2 separate regions of the Homo sapiens genome follow, and region 1 is linked to region 2. The links come from fine-mapping of genetic effects on gene expression. A gene starts in region 2. The other region holds a variant in brackets. All regions are shown on one strand. Distances are between the middles of the regions. Region 1 overlaps ZNF528-AS1 (ZNF528 antisense RNA 1). Region 2 holds the start of ZNF880 (zinc finger protein 880).

What was found. PIP is the estimated chance that this variant, and not a neighbour inherited with it, causes the effect.
Region 1: its variant is fine-mapped to the expression of ZNF880 in caudate (GTEx, PIP above 0.99). The same link has a PIP of 0.9 or more in amygdala, anterior cingulate cortex, hypothalamus, nasal epithelium and visceral fat.

What each region holds. Positions count from the first base shown.
Region 1 is chr19:52,389,330-52,392,242 of GRCh38, forward strand. The region is part of intron 6 of ZNF528-AS1 (ZNF528 antisense RNA 1); the gene reads right to left. It also overlaps a transcript of ZNF880 not described here. Among named protein-coding and RNA genes, the nearest start is that of ZNF528-AS1, 7.0 kb to the right of the region's middle. The variant C/T (reference allele first, on the strand shown) is at 1,375.
Region 2 is chr19:52,368,341-52,371,253 of GRCh38, forward strand. ZNF880 (zinc finger protein 880) reads left to right here and starts at 1,583. Exons shown (of 4, transcript NM_001145434.2): 1 at 1,583-1,637. The coding sequence starts at 1,626. RefSeq lists enhancers at 1,265-1,564, 1,575-1,684, 1,885-2,024.

The sequences.
Region 1 (2,913 bases), 21 kb after region 2:
TTTCCTAGGTACAATGGAGGCACAGGTATTGGATAAATAACGCCCGTTGCAAATGGGAGAAATTGGCCAAAACAGGTCACAGGCCCCATGCCAGTCTGAAATCCAGCAGGGCAGTCAAAGCTCCAAAATGATCTCTTTTGACTCCGTGTCTCACATCCAGGTCACACTTATGCAAGAGGTTGGTTCCAGTGGTCTTGCAGGGAACCCATGTCTGCCCCTGTGACTTTGCAGGGTACAGCTCCTCTCCTGGCTGCTTTCACAGGCTGGTGTTGTGTCTGCTACTTTTCCAGGCACATGGTGCAAGCTGTCGGTGAATCTACCATTCTGGGGTCTATAGGAGGGTGGCCCTTTTCTCACGGCTGCACTAGGCGAGTAGTGAGTAGTCTGTGTGGGGGCTCCAACCCCACATTTTACTTCTGCACTGCTCTAGCAGAGGTTCTCCATGAGGGCTCCGCCCCTGCAGCTCACCTCTGCTCCAGTTCCAATAAAGTTCCTCATCTCCATCTGAGACCACCTTCAGCCTGGACTTTTTGGTCAGAACCATTCAACAACCATTTTCTAGGAAGCTCCAAACTTTCCCACGTCTTCCTGTCTTCTTTTGAGCCCTCCAAACTGTTCCAGCCTTTGCCTGTTACCCAGTTCAAAATTTGCTTCCACATTTTGAGGTATCCTTATAGCAGCACCCCACTCTATACCATTACCAATTTACTGTATTAGTCTGTTCTCACGCTGCTAATAAAGAAATACCCGAGACTGGGTAATTTATGAAGACAAAGAGGTTTAATGGACACAGTTCCATGGGGTCGTGTCCCCCGTGCTTCTGCCACAGGGCCATATAGACAGCTCTTATCGCGGAGTTTTCCTGCCTCAAATCCTTCAGTGTCCCCTGCACTGGCCCGCACCTTTTTTAAAGTCCTCACCGCAAGGTTGATTCCCGCCCTGGGAGCTTCCCATCTGCTCCGCTCCCTCGTCAGCTCCTGGAGCGCAGCGACGCAGCCCCAGTCCCAGGGAGGCCGTGAACTCTTCCTGGTCCTGGGATCCTGCAGACCCTGCCCCTCTCCTGACTTTCTCCTGCCTTTTTCCTCCTTGATCGGGGGCCCTTCTGCTCCCCAGGCCTCCCCTTCTCCTGATATCGAGTGTGGGGACGTGACTTCTATCTCAGGACGTTAAGGTTTCTCTTGTCCCAAATTCCATCCCACAGGAAATGGGCTCTTGAGGTGGGGATCTGACTGCAGTCCCCTCCCTATGAATGTGTGGAGGAGAGGAAATAGAAAAATGGTGAAATGGGAAAGAAGAATGAAGGAGACCCATAAACAGACGGCAGCTGGGTGCGATGGCTCACGCCTGTAATTCCAGCACTTTGGGAGGCTGAGG[C/T]GGGCAGATCACCTGAGGTCAGGAGTTTTGAGACCAGCCTGACCAACATGGAGAAACCCTGTCTCTAAAAAATACAAAATTAGCCAGGCATGGTGGCGAATGCCTGTAATCCCAGCTACTCTGGAGACTGAGGCAGGAGAATCGCTTTTACCCGGGAGGCGGAGGTTGCGGTGAGCCAAGATCGCACCATTGCACTCCAGCCTGGGCGACGAGCAAAACTCCATCTCAAAAAACAAAAAACAAAACAAAACAGATGGCAAAGTAGATGGTGGATGAGGGATTTGCAGAGACAGTGCATGAAGATGCTGAGAAAGGAGCAGGGGGAGAAAAGCAACTAGAGAAATTTAGAGAAAAACTGGGTTTCTAGAGAGATAAAGTTCAGCAAGATAGGGAGAGGGGCAGAAAAGGGGAGGCTCCTCAGATGGAGAGTTGGGGAGAGAAGGAGGGATTTGGAGCCAGGGCAGACAGAGCAGCATGGTGCTGGGAGAGCAAGAGGGGCAGCCAGTGATAAGGAGAGCACAGGGAGAACCACAGCCTGGGGAGAACTGGGATCTGGGGATGCCAGAGAGGGGACAGGTGGATATAGCAGGGAAGAGGGGATTTAACAGGGGAAGCTAGGGGGCAGCAGAGACGGGGGGAAGAAAGAGGCAGAACTATATGAAAATTGGAGACAAATATTGGGCAGAAAGAAGAATAAGAGGTGAAAGAAGTGAGAAAGGAGCAGAACAAGTGGAAGAGAAGGAATAGAGGGAAGAGCAGGAGAAGGAAGAAGGGCTTGAAATGAGGAGAATCCTAGGGGAAAAATAAAGAGAAAAAAAAAGCTAGGAAAAGAAGGTGAGAATGAGAGGTAGGTAGAGAAACACACAGTAATGAGGAAAGAGGGGGACACTCAATCCAGATGAATGATGAATTGATTGGATATTATGATTAATTTCTCTATAATAAACATCACATTTGTTTAAAATATACAGATGAAGATGAGAATTGGAAAACTGTCTATAAGGCATGTGCATTTCCTAATTCTTGGTATCAGAGGTTAGCTTCCATTTGCTGTCCTTATTCTGCCAGACGGCAGGCAGTGACTTGACTCATTCAGGTATGGGTCACTATCTTCACTTCTGGGATGGGGTAGGGTGTGTGAGTGTATAAGATAGGAGGAAAAACCAAAGTGTTTTTTCTACTCACAATCAACACAATAGTGAATGCTCAACACAGAATGCCTCATCTCCGGTCATCAAAATGTGTGGGGATTACTTCCCACCAACAAGCTATTTTTCATCAGATAAAAACTGGGTGTTCTCTAATTGAACTCAATTTGACACCATTTATAGGGAGTTAGCATTAGATCTCACAGGAGGCTGAGGGCTCAGTTGCACAAAACTGCCCCCAGAATTTGCTATTGCTAGAGTGATTTACACAACTTGGAGAAACAATTTACTGAGGTGTACCATTTGTTATAAAGGATGTTACACAGGACACAGATCAACAGCCAGATGGAAGAGCATTCCTAATAAATTAATGGAAACAGAAGTATGTTTT
Region 2 (2,913 bases):
ACATTAACTAGAAACTTCATATAGTCACCCTCACAACTCTTTTGGTAATTTGAATTTTTGACCACTCTTCTGGAACTTGTTTGAAGTCCCCCTAAGGTTTGGCTTGGATCTTGAGAATGATGATCCCATACACTGATATGGTTTGAGAGTGTTTATTATATAATGAGGCTCTGTGGGGGAAAGCAGGGTATACTTTTCCAGCTGGTCCAAAAGTGGCTTCAGAGAACTGGGATAGGTGACTGGCTTGGGGTGTCATGATTGCTAAAGGGTAGGGCTGGGGCGGGGATACCCACTACCCATACTGGAAACTTAGTTACAATTCACACCTAGCATGTATATTTTTATATTTTTTGTATGTATATATATTTTTACATTTTTTTCCTACATTGCCTCCAAATTCTATGTTTAATACATTTCTTCCCTGTTTTGCTCTGGTGAAAACTTTAGGGGACAAATAAATGAGTGCTGTTTGGAGACAAAATTTTGTGACATGGGACTGGGCATTGTGGCGTGTGCCTGTAGTCCCAGCTACTTGGGAGGCTGAGATGGGAGGATCACTTGATGCCAGGAGGTCGAGGCTGCAGTCAGTGAGCTGTCTGCACTTCAGCCTGAAAGACAGAGGGAGACCATCTCAAAAAAAAAAAAAAAAAAAAAAAAAAAGTTGTGACCTGAGTATGTCCATAAGACAATGGCAGGTATACACTAGGATTAATATAAATATGAAAAAAAAAAAAAAACTTGGCCGGGTGCGGTGGCTCACGCCTGTAATCCCAACATTTTGGGAGGCCAAGGCAGGCGGATCACGAGGTCAGGAGTTCAAGACCAGCCTGGCCAACATGGAGAAACCCTGTCTCTATTAAAAGTACAAAAAAGTAGCCCGGTGTGGTGGTGGGCGCCTGTAATCCCAGCTACTCGGGAGACTGAGGCAGGAGAATCGCTTGAACCCAGGCGGCGGAGGTTGCAGTGAGCCGAGATCGCGCCACTTCACTCCAGCCTGGGCAAAAGAACGAAACTCTGTCTCCAAAAAAAAAAAAAAAAAAAAAAGGAAATTGCACATTCCGCCCTGGCAGGGTTTTGCATTTCATATTTTAATTTGCATCCCCTTCATAAACAATTCAAGGACTTTAAAATTCCGGAAACTAGTGTTTATTATTCATTTATATTTATTTATTTTAATTATTTATTTCCAATTTGTTATTTATGATTATGTATTTATTAGGCGCAAGGTTTCTCTCTCATGCCCAGGCGGGAGTGCAGCGCACGACCTCGGCTCACTGCAGCCTCCACCTCATGGGCTCAAGCGATCCTCCCACCTCAGCATCCGGGTAGCTAGGACCACATGCGAGCGCCCCTACAGCCGATTTAAAATTAATTTTAATAGCAGGAATTTTCCTGGATCTAATCATCAACAAACTTTCCCTCTGCCGGGACACAATCTATTTCCAGATAGCTGAGTTCTTCCAGTCTCCACGGCAGGTCTAGCCTCCAAAACGAGACGAGCTGGGAGCGAGGCGGAGGGAAGCGCAGGCTCCGCCCAATCCCACCCGGGCCTGGCCTCGCCTCGCCTCTCAGCTGCGCGCGCAGTTTCCTGGAGACCCGGAAGCAGATTACGTGGAGTGACGGTCATGCTGCGGCGTGTGAGTTTCCCTTTGTTTAGATTAAATCTGGGATGCTGAGTCCCCTCGCGCTTCTGTACCCGGCATCTCAGGGGTCACACAGACCTTGAAATCCCCGCATCGCTCCCTCCACCCCGACTAAACTCAGACGTTCTAATGAGAGTCTGGCGGTCGCTTCCCTGAGTGTTAAAATCGCTCGGAGGCTGGTCCTGTCCCCGGTCTTTCACCACAGGGCCATGTAGACAGCTCCTGTCGCGGAGTTTGCCTGCTTCAAATCCTTCAGTGACCCCTAGACACGGCCCGCGCTGCGTAAAGTTCTCACCCGCGAGATGGATCCACGTCTTTCCGGTCCCCCAAGCCTCGCCCTCTTTTCACAGGCCTGCCCCCTTTTCTGTGCCTTAAATGAGAGGAAATCGATCTGATGTTTACTGCTGATTGTGATGTTTCAGCCTCCATTGGGCTTTTGCTAACACCTAAATAAATATTTAGTGGACAAAATTAGGTTAGTGCAAAAGTAATGGCAAACCGCGATCACTTTTGCACCAACCTAATATTTATGGGCCGGGGCTGGAATTCCATCTTCTCCGGAGGCCCAGGCTGGAGAATTCCTTGAGCACAGGAGTTTGAGACCACTCTGGACAACATAGTGAGACCCCCATCTCAATTTTTGAAACATATGTTTCAGTACGGGTATTTAATAGAGATTGGAATTCTCGTTTCTATGTTTTTACATGGTCTGACTTTTTGAAATAGTTTGAAATAATGTTTATAAACTGAATTGAGCACAGTTTATACATTTTTATTGTTGCAAACATGCTGAAATGCACATTTGCAAAAACAACGACAGCCAGGCACAGTGGTGCACGCTTGTCATTCGAGTTACTCGGAGAGGGTGTCATTTGAGGCCAGGAATTCAAGGCTGTAGTGTGCCATGAATAAGCCACTGCACTGCAACCTGGACACATTAAAAAACGAACAAAGACAAATATCTAAAAAAGAGGTTATTGACAGACAACTCTTTCAGTTGTCACATATATGTTTACTAGAGTATATGTGTGTGAATGTATATATGTATATGAATAAGTGTGTACATGTGATGTGTGTGGATGAGTGCACAGATGAGCAAGTCTATTGTTTTTATCAAAGGCGCATCATCAGTTTATATACGTCTTATATCTTTTAACAGTTGAAATTACATCTTATATATTTTCATGACCTTAAAATTGTTCTACACTGTTATGATAGTGAGTCTATGGCTGTAAGGATAGTAACCTGTTATGGGGATACATGTGCGACA